Linked DNA regions of Homo sapiens: region 2 is linked to region 1. The links come from fine-mapping of genetic effects on gene expression. A gene starts in region 1. The other region holds a variant in brackets. All regions are shown on one strand. Distances are from middle to middle.

Region 1 (15,704 bases):
ATAAAATGGAGGAAGCTCTAAAGACATAGTTAAAGAGATGCTACACAGCTTCATATGTAATTGTCTTTATTTGTTTTAGAATACCAATGACATATAAACAACTACTACAATACCAATGACATAAAAACGACTACTACGAAGAATCAAGTATTTTTTGAGTCAAGTAGGACTCTGTCAAAACAAAGAGAAGTAAAGGGACCCCAAAATGACTATGACTTTCTCAAGGGGACACAATTATTTTTTGATAGATCTGGAACAAGAACCTAGATATCCTCAATCCCACTTTATTGTTCTTTCATTGGGTTCTGAACACAGATAAATAAACAGAAAATAAAATTCTTGTCTTCTACATAACTGGTGCAGGTCCTGGCAAGATTGAAATTGGAATACTGAGTATTAAGAAGTAATTGAAAAATTGTGAAAGCTAAATGATACATACCAGGTACATAGGAATGTGTAGCACCTGAAGATGATTCTATAGGTGAGCAGAACTGGTAATTCAATGTGTGTGTGTACTGTAGTTTACAACAGGATAGTTAAATTTCATTTTCTGATACCTTGAAGGCTCCTCCCAAACATACAACACTAAATAAATATTTAAACTAGATCACATTTAGTTCTGCATGCTTATATACATCAATAAATAATTTGTTTTAGTTACCTTGATTTTTAATTTATACTTGGTTATTTCCAAACACAAAACAGAGGCTGGACATAGGTATATGGGAGGCTGCAGAGATAAAATAAGCTCACTTTATTCACTGCCAAAAGTAAGATCCTAACAACCTCTACATACCTGAATGTGTTCAGACCAACTATCTTCATTTTACAGGCAAGCCTTCTGGAAAAATCAAGCTGAAGAAATCTTAATTGCCCAATGTCCCTTATCTGTTTCAATAAGTATAATTATATAATATCAGAATTCTTCTGAGTGACAGAGAAAGGCAGCCTGGCTGAACATCCCCATGGCCATAATGCAGATATGATGGTCTCCAGCTATTTTAGAAAGACTGGAGCCTACTATTCCCATTACTTATCTTAATAGAGAATAACATTTAATATTCTCTATGTTTTGTGCTGGATAAATCTTTTTCCCTTTATTAAAATGAATGACCCATAACTGAGTCTGTAGTTTGTACATTGTTGGAAGCTGAATAAATCTCTGTGGGTTACCAGAATCTTATTAATAAGTCACAGCTTTCTAGGGAGGATCTGCTCAAAAACTCAAAGTTTAGTTTTACATTTATAACTAAATTATGATACAACCTTGAGCAAGTTAAGCTCATCTGTAAATGAAGAATACTGATACTTGCTACTTCAAAGGGCTCTTGTAAAGCGTTCAATAAATTAATAGAGGTGTATACACATGCATATATTTTAATACTTACACATACTTTAAAAGAACCCTACATAATCCACTACAAAAATTTTGTGATGTGTCTCCCTAAACTAGTTCCCAACTACCCTGTTAAAATTATTTAAATGAACAAAAATCTATATATTAAGATACACATCAGAGAACTCCAAATACTGCTTCTCACAGTACCCTGTCCCAGCCATGCTGCCTTCCTCTTCACACAAATCTTCAATTCAGAAACCCTAGGGATTAATTCACTAATCAACCCACACCTTAATTCATTCAAGAAAATTATTGATACCCTACTAAATGTCAGGTACTGGTTTACAGGTATATTCAAGGAATATTAGCGAAAAAGAAAAAGTAAATATTCCTACCTTCTATTTGGGTGGGGGGGAGTAAACAAATGAATATGCAAATACATAAACATAAGTGTACACATGTAAATTAAATTTAAATAAATAGGTAAAATAAACAGTATATCAGATATGTCCTAGAAAGAAATATAATGCAGGGAAGGGAGTTGAAGAGTGTCAGTTGGTGTGGGGGTTGCAATGTGAAATTATGTGGAAGGTGAAATTTAAGAAGAAACATAATGGGATCCTAGGAAACAATGATGTGTATGTCTGGAAAATGAGTGTTAGAAAAGAAATGGTAAAGAAAACAGTCAGATGGGACAGCCATGGGCAAAAGTGTTCATATAGTATTCAGGTAACAGAAAGGATGATGTCACTGTGTAGGGGAAAGAGGGATCAGAGTGGAAAGAAGGAAATGAAGTCAGAAAGGAAATGGAGAGCTCAGATTGCTAGGGTTTTGGAAGCATTTTGAGTACTTTGGCTTTTGCTTTGAGTAAGCCATTGAAGAGGCTTGGGTGATATTATCTGACTTACGTTTCAACAGGATCTCTCTTGGAGATCATTTTGATTAGAGACTGTAGGAAATTAAGGACAAGATTGGGGAGACCAGGCTGGGCACGTTGGCTCACACCTGTAATCCCAGCACTTTGGGAGCCCAAGGTGGGTGGATCATTGAGGTCAGGAGTTGGAACCAGCCTGGCCAAGATGGTGAAGCCCCATCTCTACTAAAAATACAAAAATTAGCTGGGCATGGTGGCAGGTGCCTGTAATCCCAGCTACTCAGGAGGCTGAGGCAGGAGAATCGAATCCAGGAGGCGAAGGTTGCAGTAAGCCGAGATCGCGCCACTGCACTCTAGCCTGGATGACAGAGCAAGACTCCATCTCAAAAAAGAAAAAAAAAAAAAAAGATTGGTTGATTCAAACAAGCGATTTACTCAAAGATGTGCCTTCTACTCAGTAAAGACATAGATCAGGGGTTAGCCAAAAATGACCCACAGATCATTTTGTATGTCCTGTGAGCGAATAATGATGATTACATTTTAAAAGTGTTCCTGAAGAATAAAAGGGAGGAGGTAAAAGAGGAGGAGGAAGAGGAGCTAAAGAAACTGCATTTGGCCCACAAAGACTTAAATATTTAAAACCTAGAAAATGTTTGCCAAAACCTGAAATAAAGCATCTGACTTTTCTTGAGGAAGTAGGTCCTCAATAAAATTGGAAAGAGGAATACATGAGTAAATTAGTTGCTGAAAATATTGTGAAGTAATAGATATCGAGAAATATCTATGGCTTCATCCCCACCCTCAAAAACAATGCCATTCATTTCCATTGAGCTAATGAAAAATGCAGTTTGGTTTTCAAAACAGTTAACCAAAAAACACGGTCTTACATAAAAAAAATCATAAAATTTATATAGCAACAAAAAAGCATTTTCACAGAAATTAAAATTTTACAAAGCATTTCTATATCGATTATGTAATTTAATCTTCCAATCAACTCCATGGGATAGGTACTATTTCCCCATACAGAAATTACCATATCCTAAATCCTTAGTGATTGATTCCTCAAGAAAAATTAAAGTCTTGAATGCTACATCTGTTAATACTAAGGGTAGTTTTCTCCTATGGGAAGGTTGGCTTCTAGAATGAACAGGAACTTTCAGTTCAAGGTGACAGACCAGGAACACATATTTACTTTGTGTTCCTCCTGAAATTGTACTTAAATAAAAGTATACAAATACCAAAATGTAGTAGACCAACGAAAGCCAAGAGATTGTGGAAGTCATCAACCACAGAAAGGTGTTGATACATTTCTGAAAAGCAAAAAGTTAACTGGAGAGGAAATAGATGAAACAACCAAGGAAAGGCTACTCTAAGAAGTAGCAGCACAAAGTCTGTCTGTCCTTGCTGAGCCCTGGTTACAGTAAAGGGCGGAAGAGTGTGGACAAATGTGAATCTGAAAGAGCCAATTCTTCTAAATCAATCCTGTGTGGCTAACTGGGCGTAAATTTAAAATACAGCCCAGCAGCCATTTGCTGACTAGAGTTTATACCTGCACTGGCCAATTGGAACTAAGCCAATGTCTTTCTTTCTCTTTTTCTTTTTTTTTTTTTTTTTTTTTTTTTTTGAGACAGAGTCTCACTCTGTCACCCAGGCTGGAGTGCATTGGCATGATCTTGGCTCACTGCAACCTCTGCCGCCTCACCCAGTGAAGTAGCTGGGATTACAGGTGTGCACCACCACACCCAGCCAATTTATTTATTTATTTATTTATTTTTGTAGTTTTAGTAGAGACAGGGTTTCACTGTGTTGCCCCGGCTGGTCTCAAACTCCTGATCTCAAGTGATCCATTCACCTGGGCTTCCCAAACTGCTGGGATTACAGATGTGAGCCACCACAGTGGGCCAGAACTAAGCCAGTTTCAAACCTTCATTTGCCTAAAGAAACTTATGTGGGAACCTGGACAGCGAACTTTTGCTATAAAACCCAAGTCTTCCCTTTGTTTTCTGGAATGCACCTTTGTTTTGCAACAGAGGATGCAAACAGTTCACTGGAATAAAGTCTCTTTCCTCCACATTCCTTTTTCAGATAACTTTTCTTCACGAGAGAGGAGACTGAAATTATTTTAGGGAAAAAAGTTCATTTAATGAGGTTCATGAGTCAATAAAGTCCAAAGGATTCAGTGTGTCCTCACATTAACTCTGTATGACTTACAGTGGGTTGTTGGTGAAAGTGTTCAACTATAGGGTGCTAGGTATGGTTTATTGTCACTACCACAATTCTATACAAAGCTAGCCACCCAGAGATTCATTTGATATGACTGGAGATTGGTGCTTTAAAAAATTATTAAATTACAAGTAATCTCACCTGGCAACTATAAATTGTTGCTATTATCACAGTATTTATATAATTATTAAATTAAATTTTTGGAAAATATTTTGCCTTGACAAATTTCATCTCAACATGTTTGCGTCTGCCAAGTCAAAAGATCTCAGAATAATCAGTTGCCATCTAATGTTATTTTGCCTCACAAACACAAGGAAGATTTTATATTCAAAAAAAGCATCTATTCCCATTTGACAAGAAAAATAAAGAGGTGGATTTTTCTGGAATACCCTTGTCCAAATTTCCTTTTATTGTCCTGAAGCCCCAATATTCATTATTTGTTTAATGCATTTTTCCTGTTTGGGGGAAAATGCTGTAATTTATTGTTTTCAAATAAGCCTGACATTTGATTTTGTTTCAGAGTTCTTGTAGGAAATCTTTGTCCAAAACTTGTACCAGATTGTTCTTTTTGTTTAAACAAATAAAATCAAGAGATTATTTTTTATTAAACTCTCCTCAAATGATATCAAGAGATTACAGTTAAATGCCATAATTGTAAACAATTTCTCGGTTCCCTGAGAGGTTAGGAAGGACTTATAATATGTCTCCTCTTTTTAAACAGAATTTGGGTCTGAGCAAAACTTTGTGTCCTAGAAACATAAGCTTTGTTGGGTATGGAAGCCCACATTTACTCTGACATAGTATAAAATATATGAACAGGGGGATAAAAAGGATTTTGTAGTATGTTAACTAGGTTTGATGTTATTTTAAATCGATTTTTAAACTAAAAAATACATTAAAATATTTTTACTGATCTCTGATTCTTGGTTCTGAACCTTCCACATGTCCTATGTCTGGCACACAACATTAGCCCAAAGAGAGCAAAGCAGTCCAGTTAAATAAACCAAAGAAACAAGATTAAAACTAGATAAGGTCATGTGTAGGATTTTCCAAATCTTTCTTGTCATGCTGAAACTTCCAGCTCTTAAAACAGTAACACATATTTCCTTTGTCCTAAAAACCAATATTAAGTCTCCTTCCTTGGGCATAAGAATATGGATAGTTATACTTAGGTGACAGTAATGTGTGGTAAAGAGTGGGCCTTGCTGGCATGCGGACAATGACCAAATTGTATTGATCATATTTTAATCGAATACATTGCTCCACTACTGACTTGCAAATACATGATGAATTTGCTTTCTAACATATTCCAAGAAGGCCAGAGAACTGGCTTATCCATTTGGATTAATCCACTGGTGAATTTCTTTCGGGATAGGCCAAAATGGATCTGGACTATAATCTTTACATATTTAGATCCTTCAAACTAGACCAAAAAGGAAATCTGGGCTGCAAGGCTCAATTAGAAGAACAGTGTGGGATGCTGCTTTGCTGACTATTGGGGGTCGCTGCCCCATGTCTTCAGAGGAGACTGGAGCCCAGTGCCTGCCATGACCAACTTATGAGGTGAAGTAAGGGCTTCCCCCTAGGAACGCATGTGCTTAATACAGATGTGCTGTGTGCTAGGTACCCTAAGGACTACAGGAAATAATGAGAATACATGATGTGTCCATAACAAGGAGGCACACAGGCCACGGCACCAGCTCTGGAATCACACAGCCCAGGTTCGAAGCCTGGCTAGGCCACTGTCATATCAATGACCCAAGGAGCAAGCAGCCTAAGGCTTAAATGTTGTTGCTGTTGTTTGTTGTGGTTTTTTGTTTTTGTTTTTGTTTGAGACAAGAGTTTTGCTCTGTTCCCCCAGGCTGGAGTGCAGTGAGGTGATCTCAGCTCACTGCAACCTCCACCTCCCGCTTTCAAGCGATTCTCCTGCCTCAGCCTCCCTAGTAGCTGGGATTACAAGTGCGTGCCACCACGCTCAGTTAATTTTTGTATTTTTAGTAGAGATGGGGTTTCACCATGGTGGTCAGGCTGGTCTCGAACTCCTGACCTCAGGTGATCCACCCGCCTTGGCCTCCCAAAGTGCTGGGATTAAAGGCGTGAGCCACCGCGCCCAGCCTTAAATGTTGTTTAAAACAAATTTGTGAAAAGAAGTGAAGAGGCCCTGCCTGCCAGGAAGAGATGTGGTAGGGCGTAGCATCTAGTCAGGACAAGGCACCACGTCCCCTCCTCGGAAACCCTCACGGCCTGGCTGGTGACCCTGGCGCCACAGAGACGGCACACCTGGCTCCAGGCAGCACAGAGCACTGCCAAGGTCCTAGAGGAGGCTGGCAGGATATAGGTTGTCCTGTGCTTAACTTGAAGCAGATGTGCCCTCTGTGAACCGGGGAATGGGGACGGCCGACACAGGGCCACTGCGTGCAACAGCGCCGGGCCAGGGCTAAGGAACAGGCAGAGCCGGCGCCCAGGTGACAAGAGCTCTGGCGATGGGCCCGCAGGCCCCAGCAGTTCCCTCATAGAGGCCACGCGGTGCAACACCTGCCACCGGCAGCGGGGCTTCCGGGGGTCCTGGGGCAGCTGGGGCCGACGGGGCGTCGCCCTTTGCCCTCTGACCCCTGCCTTTTGCGCCCCCGCTGGCGCTCCCTGGTTCTGTGAGGAACCTCGCGGCGGCGTCGCAGGCGTAGAGCCAGTCAGTTTGTGCTTGGTCGCCAGAGGAGGCGGTGGCTGAGGAGAGTTGAGTCCACTGCTGACCCTGTTTTACGGTAGGAGGCACGGCTAGCTCTAAATGGGCAATTTACTTAGTAAATTTAGACCCGGGTGCCGCCGCCGGCCCCTGCCAGGGCCAGGGCGTGGCGCCCCCGCTCCCCTGTCCCGGGACGCCTCCCCGCCCGGTCGGGCTCACTCTGTACCCACCCCGCGCCCTTTCCGCGGCCTGTTCCGCCGGAACGCCCGTCGCAGGCCTTCAGCAGCCAGCATCTTCGTCGCCCCTAAGAGGCCGTGTCCTCTCCCTCGGGCTGCGGCCGCCCCTCTGGGGGTCCTGCCGGCTGTGGGTTGGGGGCTGGCCATCAGGAAGACACCCATGCTGCCTGCTCGGAACCCCCCGAGGTTTGGACACCCCAGTTCCGTAAGGATCCCTCCTCCCAGCCGCATGTTCACTCTCCTGCTGCCTTCACCACGTGAGCCGGCGGTCAAGGCCAGGAAGCCCATCCCAGCCACTCTCCTGGAGGAGACCGAGGTGTGGGCCCAAGAAGGGCCCAGAAGAGTGAAGAAGGATGAGGATCCGGTGCAGATCGAAGGGGAGGATGACGAGAAAAGGACCCCCCTTAGCAGCGGAGAAGCATCGTCCACATCCAGGTCCCAGGGCACCCAGGGAGACGTGGCCTCCTTCAGATGCAGCCCTGGGCCTCTGGAGGGAAATGTCTACCACAAGTTCTCAGAAAACAGCATGAGTGAGAAGGCCCAGGCGTCTCCAGCGAGCTCCTGCTTGGAAGGCCCTGCCATGCCCAGCACACACAGCCAGGCCGGATGTGCCCGGCATCTTGGAAAGCCTGATCCGGATGCAACAGCGCCCCCTGAGCCAGCCGTTGGCTGCTCCCTGCTGCAGCAGAAGTTGGCTGCGGAAGTGCTGAATGAAGAGCCACCGCCCAGCTCCCTAGGCTTGCCGATTCCGCTGATGTCCGGAAAGAGGATGCCTGATGAGAAGCCTTTCTGTATTCCTCCAAGGAGCGCTGCTCCTCCCAGAGCTGCCCGCAACAGGCCCTGCAAAAGGAAAATGTCGATTCCATTGCTGCTGCCGCTGCCCCCTTCACTGCCATTGCTGTGGGATCGAGGTGAGCTTCCCCCACCTGCTAAGCTCCCCTGCCTGTCTGTTGAGGGAGACCTACACACCTTGGAGAAGAGCCCTGAGTATAAAAGGAATAGCAGAATCTTGGAGGATAAAACAGAGACCATGACAAACAGCAGCATCACCCAGCCTGCCCCTTCTTTCTCCCAACCTGTGCAGACCACAGACTCCCTGCCCCTGACCACTTACACTTCCCAGGTCTCAGCTCCTTTGCCCATCCCTGACTTGGCTGACCTGGCTACTGGACCCCTCATCCTGCCTATCCCTCCACTTTCCACCACACCAAAAATGGATGAGAAAATAGCATTCACAATCCCTAACTCTCCTCTGGCTCTTCCTGCTGACCTTGTTCCCATTTTGGGTGATCAGTCTAATGAGAAAGGAGGCTCTTATAATTCAGTCGTAGGAGCAGCGCCTCTCACTTCTGACCCCCCAACACCTCCTAGCTCCACACCCTCCTTCAAGCCTCCCGTCACAAGGGAGTCCCCAATATCTATGTGTGTGGATTCCCCTCCTCCTCTTTCCTTCCTGACTCTTCTTCCAGTCCCTTCCACCGGGACCTCAGTTATCACCAGCAAGCCTATGAATTCCACGTCAGTCATTTCCACTGTCACAACAAACGCATCTGCCCACCTAACCTCACAGACTGCGGTAGACCCTGAAGTAGTTAATATGGATACTACTGCCCCATCTCAGGTTGTTATTTTCACATCTTCCCTAAGCTCCAGAGTGAGCTCTCTCCCAAATTCCCAAATACATTGCAGTGCAGAGCAGAGGCACCCGGGAAAGACATCAGTCTACACATCCCCACTTCCATTTATATTCCACAATACCACCCCAAGTTTTAACCAACTCTTTGGAAAAGAAGCCACCCCTCAGCCCAAATTTGAGGCTCCTGATGGGCAGCCGCAGAAAGCTTCTCTCCCCAGTGCCTGTGTTTTCCTGAGCCTTCCCATCATTCCTCCTCCAGACACCTCCACTTTAGTGAACAGTGCCTCTACAGCATCATCATCCAAACCTCCCATTGAAACCAATGCTATGCATACCACTCCTCCTTCCAAGGCTGTCATCTTGCAGTCTGCCTCTGTCTCCAAGAAGTACCTCCCATTTTACCTGGGGCTTCCTGGTTCTGGGAACACACAACCCAGCGGCAACACTGCCTCAGTCCAAGGCTCCACCAGTTTGCCTGCACAGTCAGTCAGGGCACCAGCTACAGCTTCCAACCATCCTTTAAATCCAGGAGCCACCCCTCAACCCAAATTTGGGGCCCCTGATGGGCCGCAGCAGAAAACCTCTCTCCCCAGTGCCCATGATTTCCTGAGCCTTCCTATCATGGTTCCTCCAGACACCTCCACTTTAGTGAGCAGTGCCTCTGCAGCATCGTTATCCAAGCCTGCCATTGACACCAGTGACATGAATACCACCCCTCCTTCCAAAACTGTCATCTTGCAGTCTACCTTTGTCTCCAGGAAGGAGGAGTACATCCGATTTTATATGGGGCTTCCTGGTTCTGGGAACACACTACACAGTGACAGCATTGCCTCAGCCCAAGTCTCCACCAGTTTTCCTGCACAGGCAGATAGGAGACCAACCACAACTTCCAGCCATCCTTTAAATACAGGATCCATCTCTCATTCCACACTTGGGGCCACTGATGGGCAGCAGAAGTCTGACAGTTCTTTTATTCTGGGGAATCCAGCAACCCCAGCACCAGTTATAGGCTTAACATCTCCTTCAGTCCAGCCACTGAGTGGCAGCATAATTCCACCAGGTTTTGCAGAGTTAACATCACCATATACTGCATTGGGCACACCTGTTAATGCTGAGCCAGTCGAGGGTCACAATGCAAGTGCTTTCCCCAATGGCACAGCAAAGACTTCTGGATTTAGAATTGCCACTGGGATGCCTGGCACTGGAGACAGTACCTTACTGGTTGGAAATACTATTCCAGGCCCACAAGTGATTATGGGACCTGGAACCCCTATGGATGGTGGGAGCATTGGGTTCAGCATGTCTGCCCCAGGCCCCAGTTCCACATCAGGAGAACTCAACATTGGACAAGGACAGAGTGGGACACCCAGCACCACTTCTGTTTTCCCATTTGGTCAGGCAGCCTGGGACCCAACTGGCCACAGCATGGCTGCTGCACCACAAGGGGCTAGCAACATTCCTGTATTTGGATATACTTCTGCTGCCGCCTACATTCCTGGTTTAGACCCACCTACCCAGAATTCATGCAGTGGTATGGGAGGGGATGGCACCAGATCCATAGTTGGAGGCCCTTGTGTTCCTGCTTTTCAACAGTGCATCCTGCAGCACACATGGACAGAGAGAAAATTCTACACTTCAAGCACCCACTACTATGGACAAGAAACATATGTTAGGAGACATGTCTGTTTCCAACTTCCGTAAGAGCACCTGTGGTTCACCTGATCACACCACATCAGTTGTGGTTGTAAATACCAGCATTATCCTTTTGTATGGTCATGCTTCTAGTTTCATCTTCATGCCAAGCACCTGCCATGTACCTCTCCAGAACTCAGGTTGTGCACCAGGAGGGGACAACAACATCCCTGTGCTCCCTTTCTCTGTCAGTACACATGGGTCCCACCTGGACAAAACACAGGTGGTGCATCTGCAGTGAATGGCAACATATCTTTAATTAGAGGCCCTTGTGTATCCACCTACCAACAAAGTACCTAGGGCCCACCTGGACAAAACACAGATGGTACCTCTTCCAGGAGTGTCAACATTCATTTGATAGAAGGCCCTCATGTGCCCATGTATCAGCAAAGCACCTGGGGCCCACCTGGACAAAGCACAAACCATGCAATGAGGGACAGCAACACAACGGCTGTGACTGGTTGTACTTTTGGTCCCCCATTTACACAAAGCACCTGAGGCCCACCTGGCTAAATGCAGGTGGTGCAATAGGAGATAGCCCCAGATATTTGTAGGGAGAAACCTCTAGTCTCCCTTTCAGTAAAAATACTATGGACCTGCCCAACCAAGGTGCTCCTTTTGACTTTAGAGGAACCAGCATTGTTTTTGTTTTGGTTTGTTTGTTTGTTTGTTTGTTTGTTTGTTTGTTTTTGAGACGGAGCCTTAGCCCAGGCTGGAGTGTAGTAGCACAATCTCGGCTCACTGCAACCTCCACCTCCTGGGTTCAAGCAATTCTCCTGTCTTAGCCTCCTGAGTAGCTGGGACTACAGGCATATGCCACCACACCTGGCTATTTTTTATAATTTTAGCAGAGACAGAGTTCCACCTTATTGGCCAGGCTGGTCTCAAACTCCTGACCTCAGGTGATCCACCCACCTCGGCCTCCCAAAGTGCTAGGATGACAGGTGTGAGCCACCATGCCCAGCCTAGAGGAGCCAGCATTGTTAGTTAAATACTTGTGTTTGGATGGTCCTGGTCAGAGCACCTGTGCCTGTGATGGAAAGCAGCCACTAGTGACACTTGTACCTGCCAAGGCCTTCATAGGAGCCACCAACTCATTTTTTACTCCTATCAATGGTCTTAAGAAATAAGCACTCTCCCTGCACATACAGTTCTCATAAATTGACATTGTTCCAGGAGGAATGGGCTCAGTTCCCTCAAGGTTAAACTTAACCTGCTCTCTTCCTACAGAAGCTGGAGGCCCAAAACCACAGACAGAGAGAGAGAGAGTGTGTGTGTTTGTGTGTGTGTGTGTGTGTTTATTGGTGAGTGTGGAGCAGATGAGCCCAGTCAGAACCGCACTGTATTTTAGTGGTCTTCTGCACTGTGGAGGGTAGAGGAAACCTGGCTTGACTGTTAACTTGGCTGACCCTACCTCTGGGCCAGTTCTCTCTAGTCATGGACAGAAAGGCAAAATTCCCGACTTTGTGGACCCTATATTCTAGTTGAAGGGGAGAAAAGAAGCAAAAACATGGAAATTATCTGGTAAATTAGCCAGTAACGAATGCTATGAAAAATAAAGAAGTACATGGAGGATTGAGATTGTAGATAGAAGCAGGTGTTTCAGTTTACACTGTGAACAAGCCTCACTGGGAAGGTAAATTTAAACGAAGCCTAGAGAGAAGCAGTTGAGCCAGATATATGAGCAAAGACCTTTCCAGATAATAGGAGTGGTCATTGCAGAGGCTCAAAGGAAGGATCCCTGGTGTCCTCATGGAGCAGTTAGTAAGGAAATGTGGCTGGAATGGAGTCAGCAAGTGGGAGGGAGGGATAGAGAAGAGGACAGAGGAGAGATGTGAGTGGAATTCCTTCCTCCACTTTTTACTAATTGTGTAATAACAGTTGACTCAAACTTCAAAAGTCTCAATGAAATCAGTACTTTTACTATGGCCTGTTTATCTCATAAGATTTTTGAAAGGATAAAATGAAATAATATGGAGAAATGACTTATAAGCTTTTGTTGTAATTTGTTATATACATAGGGATGGATAGACGGATGGATAGATTAGATGATAGATAGATAGATAGATAGATGATAACGTTATGGACTGAATGTTTGTGTACCCCCAAAAATTGATATTTTGAAGCCTAACTTCCAGTGTGATGGTATTAGGAGGTGAGGCTTTGGGGAGGTGATTAGGTTTAGATGAAGTCATGAAAATGAAACCCCCATGATGGGATTTGCGCCTTTATGAGAAGAAATACCAGTGCTTTCTCTAATTGCCATGTGAAGGTATACCAACAAGGTAACAGTCTGTAAGCCAGGAAAAGAGTCCTCACAAGAAACAGAATTTGTCTTTATCTTGGACTTCCTAACCTTTAGAATTGTAGAAAATAATTGAATGTTGTTTAAGCTACCAGTCTGTGGCATTTTTTGTAGCAATCAGAACTGACTAATAAAGATAGATAGATGATAGATAGATACATAGATAGATGATAGAGATAGATGATAGATAGATAGATAGATAGATAGATAATATACATATATATGTATGGTCAATGACTGAGTTCCTTAGGCAATGGTGCCCTGATTGCCTTTATTAGGCAATTCAAATAGAAGAATAGAAGAACCCCCTTTTTTTTTTGAGATGGAGTCTTGCTCTGTCACCCAGGCTGGAGTGCAGTGGCGTGATCTTGGCTCACTGCACGCTCCACCTCTCGGAAGAACCCCTTTTTATTAGCATAAAAGCACTTACTTTTATGAAGCAAACACATGTAAAAATATGATAACAGAGACTAAAACATTTATGAGATTAGGCCTGAAAGAAAACAATCACAGAGAAATTACTGAATTCCTCTTGGCACCCTGGGGCCTGATTCATTCGCTCTAAATTGTTTAGTACAGTTCCAGAGGATCAAAGCTCCTGTTTCCTGGCCAGATAATCACCTAACTTTTGTAATCAGAACTGCCTTTCAGAAGTAGAGTGGAAATCCAGTTTTCTTCTAATAGCCCTATACCCTTGCAGTATTACCAGGGACAAATTTTTTAAAATTCATACTTCTTGACATTTTTTAAAAGGCTTCAAGCTAAATATTATGATCCTGGTAAGACAAACTTTGAATAAATGTGTGAGAGATACAAAGATAATTTTTGTTTTCATGTTTTGATGCACTTACACAACTGAAACTATTTCTAAATATTCTTTTATTTTTTATTAAGATAAAAAGCAAACATAATATCAATTTAAATAATACTGAAAGTCAACCTTCCTACCACAGTTCCCTCCTCCAGAGATAGTGTTTAGCTACTTTGATGTCACTCCCATAGTTCTGAGTTTGCTTTTTTACTTCAACTATTATGTTATCTTACAGATGTCATTGTTTTTCCTAAAACTTGAAGTGCCTTCCTTTTTTTCTCCTTGAACTCTTTTCCCATAAAAAAAAAATGTTTTTGGTTTCTAGAATTTTCAAATAGTATTGTTTACTTGACTGAATCCCTTCCTTTTCCAGAAACCTTGAGCCTCCTCCACTGGTTTGGGAGTGGTAAGACCAAAGTAAATGTAAAAAGTAAAGTAGAGGTTCCTCTTCAAAGACTTTCCTCCCTATCTAATTAGAAATAAGTAGTAACTTCTTTTAGAAGCAAAATGTATTCACAGACCTGTACTAACATTCTTAAATATCTGCTAGTCATAATAAAGAAATCAATGTACTTTATGTTCTTAGCTCCCACAATTTAGCCTAAGTATTTGCCCTGGCATGCTTATACTGGTCCAAGCATTAGGTCATAGCCTGTTCCTCTTCCTTATTTAGAAGTGTTTTTACCTTTCTCAGCATTCCACAAGTTACTTCCTCATTCCTTTGTTCTCCTCTACCTTTGCCTCTTTTAAAAGTTCTAAATTGCTAGCCAATCGGGACAAATACAGAATGTGAGGTCCTGTTCCAGCCAATGGAAACCGGACACAGCAGTAGGGTGGACGCGTCAGGTTATAAATGACCCTGTCTCCTTTGTTCGGTGTACTCTTGTGGCAAAACTGCTGGCAAGTGTACCCTTTCTGCAGGAAGTAAAAATGGCCTTACTAAATAAATTTATGTTCAAGTGCTATTTCTTTACGACACCGAGGAACAAGCATTTCAAACATAAGGACATGGTCTCAGAAGAAAGAGGCCTAAAGGAGCCACCCAAACTGCTTTTAGTTTAGCCCAGAAATGCTCACTAATCAATAATTTTTAAAAAATGTCTAATTCTGGCTGCATCATCCTAATTTCCTGAATCTATGGTAGAGCCAGGAATCTGGATTCCAGGCAGCACTCTAGGGAGGTATGATGCAGACAGTCCATGTTTCCTATTATTCCAAACACTGCTTCACACCTTACATGAGAGCTCACCAAAGTCCTCATTCATCTCATAAGATAAAAAAATTTGTATAGGATGTGGTTCCAAAGCCCTAATTAGTAATAAGCAGAGTGTTTTCCTTACATCTGTGTCTCATGAACTAGAAAATGGCCTGCGGAAAATTTGAGAATTTCCAACTCATGGATGCATGTCTTTCTTGCTCTAAATATCTTCATGTTAGAGGTCTAGAAACTGCCCCCAACTGTGAGAACACTGTCCAGGGCCCCCTTAACCAGTCACTGCTGTGATCCCAGGGTTATGTGATGCAATGAGGGCTTCCCAAACAGCAATTCATTCTTTACCTGAGGCAGAGCTGGGAATGGCTCTCTCAGAAGTCCCAGGACAGGAATATCATCATCAGATGTGCCTTCCAGATAGGAAAATTGAGGCTCATAAAATCAAATATTTGCTAAGTTTTACAGCCATGATCTAGATCCTGGATTTATCCAATGCATGAAATGGGGCATGGGAGGGACTAGAAAAAAAGAAGCCAAACAAAATCTCTGCTAAAAAAATTATCTGTCTTAGGTAAATAGTACCTTTGCTTTAAATGCATACTAAGCTGTGAATGACTGATATCAGAGACTTTCTTGGAAGTAGGTTTCATAGGATGGAGGACAAATGAAACTTTATGGGCGAAGAAAGAAGGGTC
Region 2 (15,704 bases), 500 kb before region 1:
TGGGATTGTTGGGTCAAATGGAAGTTCTGTCATTAGGTCTTTTAGGAATCATCACACTGTCTTCCACAATGGTTAACCTAATTTACACTCCCACCAACATTGTATAAGTGTTCCTTTTTCTCCACAATCTTGCCAGCCTCTGTTATTTGTTTGATTATTTGTTATTTGTTATTTTTTGACTTTTTAATATATACGTTCTGACTGGTGTTAGATGGTATTTCATTTTGGTTTTGATTTGCGTTACTCTAATAATGAGCGATGTTGAGAAGATTCAAATAAATGCAATCAGAAACAACAAGGGTGATATTACCACTGACCCCACAGAAATATAAACAACCATCAGAGAATATTATGAACACCTCCATGGACATAAATTAGAAAATCTAGAAAGAATGAAGAATTCCTGCACAAATACACCCTCCCAAGACTGAACCAGAGAGGAACTGAATCCCTGAACAGACCAAGAATGGCTCTGAAATTGAGGCAGTAATAAATAGTCTCAGTGACAAATTTTTAAAATGCCACTTAGAAAATGTACACATAATTTTGCTCTATTCAGCAAATATATCTGTAACAATCACTTTTAGGAAAGGTGTTAAAATATTTTATTATTTTTTCTCATTTAGCTTAACATTTTAAAAATACTTTTCTGCTGGCAACTATTTATATCTCCATTTTCATTGACATAGTCAATAATTTACCCACCTTTCTATTAAATAATAGTGGATCAACTGATGTGCATTATTTTATACTGAACTTTGGCACTCTTGACATAATTCATATACGAATAGTCATCCAAATGTCTTGGCCAGTGAAGATGAGATTTGTCTGCCAAGGTTGAACAGGAGTTTTCCTACCTGAAAGCGGCAAGCAGTACAAAAGCAAGAACATGGTAGATGAAATTCAGGAGTCCCACAAGCAGATGAGGATTCATTTAGGGCCTGAGAAGGTGCAGGGACCCCTCATAGGGGCCTGTGTACCACCCCAAGCATGGAAATAAAGGAAAATCTTGAGTCCCTTCACAGAAATTCCAGGCACCTCTCTACCTCTGAGAAGTACACGAGCCACTGGACAAGCAAGAAGGTAAAACAGTAGCAAGGAATGGAGAGTCATGGGAATATGGGGTTCCCTATGGAAACTAAAAATCAAAGCTTAGCATATGTCCCTGAGTTGTTGTTCAGAAAGCTGCCCCTCTACTAAATGGATCCACTGGCACATAGACCTCAGATAAAGGGGATCTATGAAATGAACTCTGCCATTCTTTATTCTCAATTTCTTCCTGAGTGGCCTATGGAATGTTACGTCTATGAGCCAAAAGTACCATTACTTTCTGCTGATCCCAAATTTTCTGACAAATTTTACTTTCTTAAATAATCACACATCAGAAAATCTCTGAATCCCCCTATGACCTGTAAGCTTCCACTTCAAGATACTTCATCCTTTTAGTCTAAAACCAATGTGTAACCTCAATATATTAATTTATGACTGTGTATTACCCCTCCCCTCTGTGTCTTTAAAATCCCCTACCTGTAAGCTGTCTGGTAGTTTTAGTCTTTATTTTATTTTATTATTTTATTTTATTTTGGGGATGGAGGTTTGCTCTCGTAGCCCAGGCTGGAGTGCAGTGACTCCATCTCAGCTCACTGAAACCTTTGCCTCCTGAGTTCAAGCGATTTTCCTGCCTCAGCCTCCTGAGTAGCCAGGATTACAGGCAGGTGCCACCATGCCCAGCTAATTTTTGTATTTTTAGTAGAGATGGGGTTTCCCCAAGTTGGCCAGGTTCGTCTCGAACTCCTAACCTCAAGCGATCCGCCCTCCTCGGCCTCCCATGGTGCCGGGATTACAGGTGTTGGCCACCATGCCCGGCCTGTCTGTGTGACTTCTTAAATGTTCTTTGATATTCTCCTGCAAACCTCATGATGTTCTCTTGTTTCTCAGATTGTAACGTGTTACATGAATTTATTCTTTCTATCCCATGCTTCCTTTTATTGATGCATTCTGTCCTTTAAGTAGTGCATTTAGAACATTGACATTTAAAGTGATTATTGATATAGTTGGATTAAAAATCTACCAAATTTGTTACCATTTTTCAGTTGTTGATTTGTCTTTGTTCTTATTTTTGTATTTCACTCATTTTCTACCTTTTGTTGTTTTGAGCACTTTATATCAGTTCATCTCATTTCTTAGCATATCTCTATTTTTTTACCTTTTTAGTGACTAGTCTAGGTAATAATTTTATGCTTAATTAATCTAACAAATAACAGCTTGTTAAAAACATTAGTTTGAATATATTTGATTAGATATGGTTAAATATATATCATTGTGTGTGTATATGTATACATACAAACATTTATGTGCATTTATTCTTATGTAAGTGAGATGAATAACTGCAATAGGTGATAGAAGGAAAGAATGTGGGTTATTCTGTTACTGTAAGGTGTTCACACCACATCTTAAGTGATATATTGTTACTTGAAAGGGGGCTTGGATTAGCCAGAATTTTAAATTGCAAACTGTAGGGCAGCTTCAGTTCCTTGCTGGCTGTTGACTAGAGGCTGCATTCAGTTTCTTCCCATGTTGACTTCTCCCATGTGGCAGAATGCTCTATCAAAGCCATCAAGGCAAAGAGCTTGCTAGCAAGACCAAAAAAAAAAAAAAAAATCACAACTTTACGTAACATGATCAGTCGTGTGACATCTAATATTCTTGTATTATTGTGTTGTGTGAAAGCAAGTCACATTTCATGCCCATACTCACAGGGAGAGGATTACAATACAAGGTCATGCACCCTGGCAGGTGGGGATCATTGGGCACCATCTTAAGGTCTACCAGCCACATCAGGTCCTGTCTGATGTGCAACAGTTTCCCAGTCTTCGTTTATCTTGAAGACTCTCAGCTGCTAAGAAAAGAACTGGTGAGGTATTTTATAGGAAGCATCACAATGTGGATTCATCTGATGATTTCTCATTATTTGAATAGAATTATAGACTTATTTTGAACACCTTTATCTTAATTTGAAGACAATAAAAACTGAATATATTATTTAGAAATATAAACATAGACATAAAAATAATACAAAAAGGAAATGACAAATAGGAAACTGAAAATAATAGTAACCTTCATGGGGGTAAAAAATGCCATGAAATTGGGGAGCTGCACATTTAGAGCATCAACAATATTGATAATATTCAGTTTGTTAAGGTCAGCAGTGAATTTTTAAAGAAAGAAAAAAAGCTTTTCTATTTTACGTTAGCTTTGGACTTACATAACAGTTGCATAGTCAGCATGGAGAGTTAATATGCAACCAACACAGAGTTTCCATCATTATTAACCTCTTATATGAGCATGGGTATTTGTCACAATTAACACACCAACATTATGCATTCTCATTCACTGATATCCACATATTAATCAGATTTCTTTTCTTCCTAATTACTGTTTGTTTTCTGTTCTAGGATCTCTTCCAGGATAACACCTTTAGATATCATGTCTCCTTAAGCTTTTTTTGTCTCTGCAGTTTCTCTGAATTTCCATGTTTTTCGTGGCATTGACATCCTCCATTTAGGATTTCTATGATTGTTTTTACTAACAATTAGACTGAATTTGTAGATGTGGAAGAAGAAGAGACAGGAGTGAGTGTAATACTCATTATACCATGGGCATATATTCTCAAAATGCTTTTATCACTATTGATACTAATTTGAGCACCTGGATGAGGCAGTGTGTGTCCAGTTTCTCCACTGTAAAATTAATTTTCCCCCTATCCACGTCGTACTTTTTGAAAAAAACGTCACTATGCACAGCGCATACTTAATATTGGGGAATTATTCTTCACCTCCTTAGGGCAGAACTTGTATAGTATCGTTTGTATTTCATTATCATAGGCAATGTATCTCTTCTCCAGCATTTATTTAGTCAATTATTTATATTATATGGAATATTGGCAAATAAAAAATATTTATTTCCCCTGTGATTAGACTAGTTTATTGTATTGTTCAAATTGTGCTAGTGCTGGTCATTAGAAGGCCTTTCAGTCAGCTGCTTTACCACTTTGAAATACCCATATTATTGCTATTTGATTTGGTTTGTGTGGTGTGTTGTTTGGTTGTGTTGTTTAACTTTTTCTTACTTTCTGGCTCTACAAGGTACTTAAGCTTAATAGTGTTGATTCCCTTCCCAGCCATGCCATTTACCATTTTCCCCCAAATTCCTAGTTCCTTTTTTGGTGAATGGCATTAGAAACAAAGGTCTCGGCAATGGTGTTGTCATTTCTGCCAGGCGTCTGTTAATTCTATGTTTTGTCATCTGACAGAACAAAGGATTATATGTATGTATGTAATTCACACTCACATATGTATATGCATTTCTACAACATTTCTCCATTTATTCCTATGTAAAGTTCAGCATGAATTCTTATTAATGTTTCCAGCACCCATGATCTAATTCAAGACTACATAAATCAGTTTCCCCATTCCCACTACTTGTATGTAACCTCCCACGCTAACAGTGAGATAGTTGGCCTCCTTTATATAATCAATGAGTCCAAAATACATGCAGAGTAGTTTTAGAATTGGTAATTCATACACCCATGGGAAAGAATGTTTCTAACTAAAGAAGAGAATTTATGTACAGATACTTTGACATTTAAACTAAGAATCTCTCCTTATTTTTATATTTCTTAGGTTGGTCCCCTTTGCCCCCAAATGTCTGTTTCTTTTTCACAATATTTTAAATGGAATTGTTTTCTATGTTTTATTTTAGATTAATTGACAATATATAGAAATGCAATTGATTTTTATTACTCTAGTATACTAAAGTGTTACTGAACTCATTTTTTGTTTCTAATCTTCTTTTAGTAATTTCCTTAGGATTTTCTATACATAGGATTATGTCATTTATGAATAGAGAAAGCTTAACTTCATCCTTTTCATTCTAGAAGTCTTATATTTATGTTTCTTGCCTAATTACCCTGGCTACATGTTCCAATACAATACTTAATAAAAGTAGCAAGAGCATACATCCTTGTCCTGTTGCTAATTTTTTGAAGAAATTACTGAAACATTCATAATATGGTGTGTTGTTGTGTGAGTTTTTCATAGATGCCTTTTATCACTTAAGAAAATTTCCTTTTATGCCTAATTTGCTCGGCATTGTTATCATGAATGTGTTTTGGATTTTTCAACTGCTTATTCTGTATCTTTAGAGATAATTATGAAGCTTTTGTCCTTCACTCTGACAATATAGCGTATTACAGTAATAGTTTTTGTATGTTTAACAAAACATATTTCAGGGACAAATGACTTTGCTCATAATGTCTATTTTTATTAGGTTACTGGTTTATTTTGATAGTATTTCCTTCAGAATTTTTGCCTCTGTTTCATGGGGCATATTTGTCTGTAATTTTCCTTTCTTGAAATCTCTTTGTCCAGTTGTGCTATCAGGGAAAACGGGCTTCATGCGGCATATTGGGAAGTGTTCTCTACTCCTCTGTTTTTATTTTTTTTTCTTGAAAGATTAGTTAATAAAGATTGTTATTAATTTTCAAAGGGGTTAGAATAATTCACCAGTGAAGTCATCACAACCTAGAAAAAAATTGAATCCTACCAACACTAACATGAGCTGGGAAAGGGATCCTTCCTCAGGGGATGCTTCGCTTGAAACCTCAGCCTGGGTCATCTGATCCAGAGAAAAGGTTAAGTAATAGTTACGTGTGGGTTTGAACATCTAAGCTGTTCAGTTATATGTTATACAGCGACCTGTAGGTAATATACCTGAGAGTAAATGTAATTAGATTCTAGAAGAGAAAATGACATCAGTGGAAAACCTGGCAAAATATTAAGAAAGTCTGTCTTTCAGTTAATGCTTCAAAACTATTAACTGTATTTCAGGTAATAGTTTTGTACCACTGTCAATTTCTGAGTTTTCATAAATACATTCTGGTTACATGAGTTGTTAACATTTCAGAAAGCTGTAGATTATGTAAAACTGCATTATCTTTGAAACTTTCTGTAAAACTAAAATTATTTTCAAATAAAAATATTCTTAAAATATATTATTTAGGAACAAAAAAAAATACCAACACAGATGGACATAAACAACAAGAAACCTTGGACCAGAGGATGAGTGGAGATGCAGGGAGTGAAAGGCAAAGTACTTGCCTTATTATCCCCATTCCTACACAGGGCACCTGCTTCAGGCTTCAGGCACCTCATCAAGCTCCAGGGACTCTCATCCATTTTCTTCTTTCCCATCATATGCTCCATTACCCAGTCACCAGTTCATACATCAGTAACCACTTTTTCAAAGAAAGGTGCCTGCCCCACATGTGTTAGAAGGCCCTATTTTCAGGCACTTTGTGGTAGTGTCTTTGTAGGATCTCACTAAAGACATTTTGAAAGACATGACTTCCAGACAAGATTGAGAAACACCAGTGATGGGGAACATAAATAATATTTCTACATTAGGAGTGTTTTCTTAGTTCAGAGATTCTCTTGTTCAAGTTTTAAAGTTTTTAAAGCCTTTGAGAATACCCTATGATAATTAAGTTCTTTTTATTATGCAGACTCCATCATGAATTCATGGCACCACACAGTCCCCTGATGCTATAATATCATGGATTTCTTTTGTCCAGTGAGAGGCCCAAAAGCTGCAGCACAGACAATATCATAGTGTAGAAGGTTCACTAGCTATGAAAATAAAAGCTTCTAATCATGGGGTTGTAGGCTGATTCCTGCTTACAGAGACCTGAAATGAACCTTCAGACACCAGGCATATGAAAG[C/T]GAGGCATGTTAGTGATACAGAGTGTGTTGTGCAGAGGTGGAAATAGCCTAATAGAAAAAAGGAAAGAAGAGCACAGTACAACATAGCCCAGCCCACCATGCAGTGATCTAAGAGATGGACACAGGCTCAGTGCAGACTCTGCATCTGTGCTGCTTAAACAAAGTTCTCCACAGCAGGGAGGATTGTCCCCTCATCCCCCACACAGCTCCCCGTTCACAGGCCACACCACTTTATGGGAGGGCACCAGGGTTGTTCCAGGAACGATGTCCACAAAGCTTACTAAGCCATGGGACTGTGTGCTGCACTCCCAAGGACATCCATGAAGTTAGGACTCTTTTTGCTTTTTCAGACCGTGATCATGGGCTACATTCTCCATACCAGCTTCATAGCTCCAGTGAGAAAATAAATTCCTGCACCCAGGAGACGTGGAGTAAGAGATACAGCTGACCTTGACCACATTTCTTACTTCCAAGAAGATTGTAGCAATAATTCAGGTGCTACTATTTGGGACATTTATAATTCAATAAACCTGCTTACCCCTCTGAGCTTACAATTCACCCCATAGGAAGGAGAGCCTCATTTAAATTGATAATCTTAAACTGGGCGTGGTTGTTCACGCCTGTAATCCCAGCAGTTTGGGAGGCCGAGGCGGGTGGATCTCGAGGTCAGGAGATTGAGACCATCCTGGCTAACACGGTGAAACCCTGTCTCTAATAAAATACAAAAAATTAGCCAGACATGGTGGCGGGTGCCTGTAGTCCCAGCTACTCGGGAGGCTGAGGCAGGAGAACGGTGTGAACCCAGGAGGCGGAGCTTGCAGTGAGCCGAGATCATGCCACTGCCCTGCAGCCTGGGGGACAGAGCAATACTGTGTCTCAAAAAAAAAAAAAAAAGGACAATCTTAGTAAATGGAAGTTTGCTCTTTTCATTTCATTATAAGAGGAGTTTCTATAAGGTAAGTGACTTGTCAAATCCCATTTTTCTCTTCATTTCTATGCATACATATGGTCTGTTATGATGTGTACTGTGAAGATCATTCATGACCAAACTGTTCAGGAAAAACAAAATCACCAAGTGGCAGGCCATGAAGGAGATGGAAGTAGATTTGTCTAAGGAGAGACTCATCTCTAGGTAGCAAGAGGGTCAATGAGTTCTGAGTGCCCAGGGTTAAGATAGGAAATGTGATAGACACAAAACTGTGCTACCGTGATGTCCCTGGCACAGAGAACAAACACAGTGCTGAGCACCGAGCTCCGAAACTCTACCACCATAGCATGGAAGTTATGATTTCTCACAAGACAGTAAACCACCTGTGACCACGTTGTACTGAGGCTGGATTGGCCACCAGAATTCTCAGAAAGATGCTATTGAAAACATCTCATTGTCTGACCACATCATGAGGCCTGAACCCAACCCCTCTCCACCCTCTACCCTGAATGGAGAATAAAGCTTAAAAGGTGCATGACTCCTATATTTGAAATTAGGGCTTTCTGTTCACTGAACTGAGCCCTCATAGAAGCTGAAACTCTCAGTGCAAATATGCTCAACATTCTAAATTATAAATTATATGAGTTTCTTCTTCATGCAGTGCAGTCTTCAGGGAACACCAAGGCCTGTTTGATTTTCCAAGTATCAACAAGTGGAGTTGACAAGAGTGACAAATGGTCAGAGCAAAGCATTTCATGATGACTGTAACGTGCCTGCGTCAGCAGCGACTGCTTACAGTGAGATTCACATGACCATCGTTTATGACATAGGAAGAATAAAAGGAGAGGAGAAAAAGATAGGTAGTTGATCGAAATGAAGAACTGGATTTGGAAAGCAACTTCGAATAGTCTCTGCCTATATTTCTGAGATTAAGGCAAACAGTCTCAAGATGAGTATTTCTGTCTTGAGAGAGCTGCACTCTGCAACTCTGTAAACTTTCAAGTAACACTTTACCATTTCTATCTTCCTTCTCCATGGGATCTTCGAGCCATGATTTGTAAAATTACCTATACATCTATGTTGTATTTTTGTAGTATCTGATATTCTCTTGAGGTCTCTCTTGGGACAATGGCTTCAAATTATAACGATGTCCAACAGGACTCCAGGAAATTGGTCCTGGATGTTGACAGTGCACCTTTCATAGGATACTTATTTATCCTTGCAGATGACACAATGCCTAATTGTCCAGTCCTTTACCAGGCATCCTTCTTACTGTAATTTTTTTTAATTTCCATACGTTATTCGGGAACAGGTGGTTTGGGTTACATGAGTAAGTTCTTTAGTGGTGATTTGTGAGATTTTGGTGCACCCATCACCCGAGCAATATACACTGCACCCTATTTGTAGTTTTTGATCCCTCACCCCCTTCCCACCCTTTTCTCCTGAGTTCCCAGAGTCCATTGTATCATTCTTAGGCCTTTGCATCATAACTTAGTTCCCACTTATGAGTGAGATCCTACGATGTTTGGTGTTCTATTCCTGAGTTACTTCACTTAGAATAATAATCTCTAATCTCATCCAGGTTGCTGCAAAAGCCATTAACTCATTCCTTTTTATGGTTGAATAGTAGTCCATTATATATATATATATACCGCAGTTTCCTTATCCACTCATTGATTGATGGGCATTGGGGTTGGATTACTGTAAACTTTTAAATACTGTCAGATGCCCTTATGGCACTTTGCAGAACTGTGACCACTACATTCATATCAAGACAACCACTTTCTAGGAAAACTCTGAATTGGAAAAATGTTAAGTTCAGGTGTGTTGGTCATGTGAGACACAGAGGAGGCCACTCAACAGAGCACATGAGATAATGTAAGCGGTGTATTTCTTACAGGTGAGGTTCACTGGGCACCATCGTAGGGTCTACCTGACACATCAAGTATTCTCTAATCTGCAGATTTCTCAGTCTTCACTTATTTTTTGTGAACTTGACTTTTTTGAAAACACAGGTCAGATATTATGTAGGTTTTCCCACAATATGAATTTGTCTCATGATTTCTCATGATTAAACTGGGACATAAATACATTAAAACCATGCATGTGTGTTTGAAGACAAGAAAAATAAACATTATAGATATTAGAAATATAAACATAGAGGTAAATGTAATAAACACAAATTAGAGGATAACAAATAATTCACAGTAATAGCTATTTTCAGTGATTAAGGAAGATGGTGAAGCTCAGGAGATGCACTATGGGCCATCAAACATATTGCTCATGTTGTTTTATAAGGTCAACAGTGACTTTAAAGATAAAGAAACCTTATAAATTTAAGAATAGTTTTAGGTTTACAGAACAGTTGTAGTACATAGAATTTCCACATATCCTACGAAGTTTCCATTTTTATGAAATTCTTACATTAATGTAGGACATTTGTCACAAGCAATCAGTTTTATAACACTATAACTACTCTTCATACTTTATTCATTTTTTTTTAGTTTTGACTTAATGTCCTGTTTCTATTCCAGGATTTCATCCAGGATACCTCATCACAGGTACATGTCATGTCTCCTTAGAATTCTCTGACTGTCACAGTTTCTCAGAGTTTCCTTATTTTTGATGCCATTAATATTACTAATGTGGGATTTGTCTGATGTTTCTCTAATGATAAGACTGGATTTGTGGGTTTAGGGGAGGAAGATCACGAGGAAAAGTGTCATTTTTATTTATTTATTTAATTTTGAGACAGTGTCTCACTCTCTCGCCTAGCCTGGAGTGCAGTGTCATGAGCTTGGCTCACTACAGCCTCCATCTTCTGAGCTTAAGGATCCTTCCCTCTCAACCTCCAGGGTAGCTGAGACTACAGGTATGTGCCACCAGGCTGGACTAATTTATTGTTGTTGTTGTTTGTTATTTTTTTTGGTAGAGGCAAGGTTTCACCATGTTGCCCAGGCCGGGGTCAAACTCATGGGCTCAAGTGATATTTATTTTGTTATAGAGATGGGGTCTTAATGTGGTGTCCAGGCTGGTCTGGGATTACAGGCGTGAGCCACTGTGCCTGGCCAAAAAGTGCCATTCTCATCATATCATACCAAGAGTAAAAACTGTCAACAAGGGTAGACAGTCATTATTGGCAGAATGTCTACAAATTCCTTTAAACCTTCACCGTAAACATGTGCCTATTCTCTTCCAATTATTTCATGTGTATTAATTTATTCACTTAAACATGCATCTTTTATTTATATCATTATCTAAATATGGAGATTTATTTTACAATGCATATGTGCTATTTTTTTTTTTGAGACAGAGCCTTTCTGTGTTGCCAAGGCTGGAGTGCAATGGTGCGATCTCAGCTCATTGCAACCTCTGCCCCCTGGGTTCAAGCGATTCTCGTGCCTCAATCTCCTGAGTGGCTGGGATTACAGGCATGAGACACTACACCTGGCTAAGTTTTGTATTTTTAGTAGAGACTGAGTTTCACCATGTTGGCCAGGTTGGTCTCAAACTCCATACCTCAGATGATCCACCCTCCTCGGCCTCCCAAAGTGCTGGGATTACAGGCATGAGCCACCATGCTCGGCTGCTATTTTTTTTTTAATTGCACAAATTGTTCCAGTGTTGGCTATTGGAAGGTTTTTAAGTTGTCCCTTCTATCACTTTGAAATACCTGCATAATTAAAGTTTGATGTTGTGTGGTTGGTTGGTTTTGTTGTTGTTTGGCATTTTCTTTTGTTCAGTCACTATTATATGCTCCAGTCTGTGAATTTAATTCTGCTTCAGGGTAATTTGGTAATTTTATACTTTCTGCTAATGTTTCCAACACCATATGACCTAATCCAGGACCATATAAATGGATCCACTCATTCTCATTTGTATGTGATCTAGCACTCCCTGCAAGCAAGTTGATGTTGTTAATTTAATCATGCTACCTGAACAAGGTATATGGCTATGTAGAAAAATAGAAGTTGAAACAGTCAAAATACTGTGTAATTCCATTTATATGACTCTCTAGAAAAGGAAAAAGTGTAGTGATAGTAAAGAGTTCAGTGGTAACAAGGGGCTTGGGAGAGATATAGGTGACATCAGTGAACTACCGAAGATTTCTTTGGGGCAGTGAAATTCCTCTTTGATACTGTAATGGTGGATACATCATAATGTTTTCCAAATCCTGAAGAACTTTGTAACACAAAGAGTGTAGCTAAATTATGCAAATTTAAAAGCTTATTTAGTAGGTAACAAGTTTGCCTTTTCACAGTATTTTACCTTTTCCAACTTATATTTTTTAGCAATATGCTTTTTAGATTTTTGAAGTACACCTCATGGTTTTTAGATTTGCCTTCACCCAATTTTTGTAGGACAGGTGAGTCACAGAATTTTGGCTTATCCTGAGAGGGTTATTAGCTTTGTCCAAGAAAGAATTTAAGGGCTAGTGGGTGATGTTAGACTGCAATATTTTATTGAATGGTACTGCTCCTAGCAGAGCAGGGCTAACTCTTAAGCAGTGTGTTCAGAGTTGGCAACATATAGGCCTCTTGGCAACTGTATTTATATGCAATCAAACCCACTTTTAATTATATGCAAATTGAGGGGCAAGTCAAGGCAAATTGAGGCAGGACAGGGGCAGTGACTTCTAGGTTGTCTCCATGGAAAGGGCAGTAACTTCTGAGTTGTGGCCATGGAATTTGTAAACACTTATGTGGTTGGTAGGAGTGTCTTATGTGAGTGACAAATGAAGACTGCCAGGGATCACATTTACCGCAACGTACAGGCTTCTGCCAGTTTTTTCACTTTATCCTGTCTGGAGCAGATCTTATTTTGGTCATCAAGGTTGTGAAACCAGAAAACAAATCCTTCCAGTCTCCTACCTCATAATGACAAAAGACATTGAGCATATTTTCATGTGATTTTGGATATGACTATGGCTTTCTTTTGAGAATTGGCTATTTAAGATTTTGCCATTTTTGATTGGGATATTTGCCTTTTAAATTTTGAGTTGTAAGACATTGCATATTCTGGATAATAGACCATTATCACCTATAAAATTTGCAATTTTCACATATTTTCTGCCATTCTTTGGGTGCCTCTTTATATTTGATGGTGGACTTTAAATTGCAAAAGGTTTTAATTCTAATGAAGTTTAATATTTCTATATTTTCTTCTTTCCTTTGTGTTTTTCAGTGTCATATCTTAAAACATTGTTTAACCAAAGACCACAAAGATGTATTCCTGTGTTTCTTTTTATGGGTTGGCTCTGTTTAGCTCTTATATTTAGATAGATTGTCATTTTGAGTCAATTATGTTTCTGGTATGAGGCAAGAATCTAACTTGCATGTGGATATCCACTTGACCCAGAAACATTTGACAAGAAAATATTGCTTCATAACTAATTTATTTGGCCACAATATAAAAGCATTTCACCATAAATGTAAGGATTCATTTTTGAGTATTATATTCTACTCCATTGATCAATACATATATCCCTACACTAGTACCACAAATCTTGATTACTATTACTTTGTAGTAAGTTTTGAAATCAGGAAGCATATGTCTACTATGCAAACCCTTTTTGTCTTTCTCAAGAGTATTTTGGCTGCTCAGGATCTATATTATATATAAATTTGAGGATAACCTTCTGAATTTAGGGGAATGTTTTGAGAGAAGTTGCATTAATTCTATAGATCCATTTGGAAAATATTGCCAACCTAACAATATTAACCCTTGTAAACAATGAGCATTCAAAGATTTTCTATTAATTTTGTTCAATATGTGTTATATAGTTTTTAGTGTACATATCTTATACTTAATTTGATAAGCTTATTCCTAAGTATTTTTGATTCGATCTCAATTGGAACGGTTTTCTGAGTTTTGTTTTTAGATTGTTAATTGCTAGTATAGAGAAATTTAAAATATTTTATATATTTTATATACTGCAAATTTCTTTGAACTCGTCTTTAAATTCTAAACATATTTGATTAGAATTCTTTGGACGTTTTGTACATACGATCATGTCATTTGCAAACAGTCAGAGTTTGACTTCCTTTCCATATTAGAAACATTATATTTATTTTTCTAAGCCAATTGCCCTGTCTACATTCTCCAGTACAATGTTGCAAACTAGTGTCAACAGTGGAAATATTTGACTTGTTTCTAATATCAGAGAAATTAGTGAACCTTTCAGATTACTTATGATGATATGTGAGCTTTTCATAGATGCCCTTTGAAATGCAGAAAGTTCTCTTATCTGCCTAATTTGCTGCATGTTTTTATAATATGGAATCTGGGAATTTTCAAGTGCTTGTTGCATACCTTCTGAGATGATTGTGTAGTTTTTATTCTTTATTAATATAGTGTATGACTTTAGTTGTATCCTATATTGAACCAAATTTGCATTCCTGAGGTAAATACCCTTTACCATAGTGTATAATACTTTCTACATGTTGCTGATTTCATTTGATAATATCTCGCTGGTGATTTTTGTCTCTGTATTTATAAGGCATATTGGTCTTCATTTTCCTTATTTGAAATGTCTTTGTGTAGTTGTTCAATCAGGGTAAACTAATTCATAGTATACAATGGGAAGTGATCTATTTTCTACTTCTTTATTATTATTGTATTGTTTTGAAATATTTTTGATAAATTAGTATTAATTTTATGTGATTTTAATAACACATCAATGAGTTCCTGATGAGGGCAGGGAGGTGAATCCTAAGAACAATCATGTGAGTTTGGAAGGAGACCCTTCCCCAGCTGAGCCTCAGCCTGAGCCATCACCTACATCTAGACCGAAGACCCAGAGAAACTGTGAGTAGTATGTGTGTGGTTTTGAGCCACTAAGGTATGTGGTAATTTGTTATGCACCAAGTAGTAAGTAATATACCTGACAGTAATTGTAAGGTGGTATTCTGGATTAGGTCCTGGAATAGATAAGTATATCATTATTAGAAAACCTGGTAAAATATGAAGGAAGTTTGTAGATCAGTTAATAGTCTTGAAAAACAGTTAAATTCTTAGTTTTCATGAATATGCTATGGTTATAATAGATACTAACATTCTAGTTATCTGAATGGTATATGAAACTGTCTGTACTTACCTATGTGCATTTATGTAAATCTGCAGTTATTTCAAAATAAATATTTTTTTAATATTATTATTTTGTTTTTTTTTAAAAAGTAAGCAAGTAAAGACATCAGCAAAAAACTTTTGCCTCCAAATACAAGTGGGCATGTAGGGAGAGAACAGTAAACTAGCTTTTCTTTTCTAGGCAACATTTGAAACCCAGGAGCCACTGCTTCAGGAAGGTACCTTCAAGCTCCAAGGACTCTTATCCTCTTTCTCCTTCCCCACTACCTAGTCATTAGAGTGTCAGCATCCACTTCTTGAAAGGAAGATGCCTGTTTTTCACATATCCCAGAAAGCCCCATTTTAGGACAGCATTTAGCAGAGTATATTCAAGATCCCACTAACCTTTTCGGAAGACATGAATTCCAGATGATATAAGGCAAGAATAAGAAATTTCAGTGTCAGGGAACATAAATCATATTTCTGCATTCAGGATCACGTTTTCTTGGTACAGGGATTTCTTCTTCAAGTAATCCAAAGACAACTTTACTTTCAAACCTTTCAGAAAACCTGTTCTAATTTACTTTGCTTCATTCTACAGGCTCCATCAGGAACTGTTCAGGACCATGCACTCTGTTGATACTCACATGGTGGAATTATATTGCCCTTGGCCAACCCTAAAGCCATCAAGATAGCAGGTAAACAGAGTACAAAAAATATTTCTAATAAGTTGCTTTAGGGCAGTCCCTGCTTCCAGAGGCCTGGGAATAAATCTTTACAACAGGGTTTTTGCAGGTGAATGCTACTGAGTGATATATACATGTTGTGCACAAAAAGAGAAATCTCATTAGGTGAAAAACAAACAAAAAAAGAAAACAATATACAGCATATCTCCAACCCTCCATGCAGTGATCTGAGAGACAGAAACAGGC

Direction of the effects. Positions count from the first base shown, and alleles are read on the strand shown. Sizes are in standard deviations (SD) of each study's normalised expression.
With allele T in place of C in region 2, the expression in pancreas of the gene that starts at base 7,126 in region 1 is lower (moderate effect, 0.48 SD a copy in GTEx).

The links. PIP is the estimated chance that this variant, and not a neighbour inherited with it, causes the effect.
Region 2: its variant is fine-mapped to the expression of NPAP1 in pancreas (GTEx, PIP above 0.99).

What each region holds. Positions count from the first base shown.
Region 1 is chr15:24,668,650-24,684,353 of GRCh38, forward strand. NPAP1 (nuclear pore associated protein 1) reads left to right here and starts at 7,126. Exons shown (of 1, transcript NM_018958.3): 1 at 7,126-14,744. The coding sequence starts at 7,219. The coding sequence ends at 10,689.
Region 2 is chr15:24,170,677-24,186,380 of GRCh38, forward strand. The region is part of intron 2 of LOC105370732 (a long non-coding RNA gene); the gene reads right to left. It also overlaps a transcript of LOC105370733 not described here. Among named protein-coding and RNA genes, the nearest start is that of PWRN2, 8.6 kb to the left of the region's middle. The variant C/T (reference allele first, on the strand shown) is at 6,780.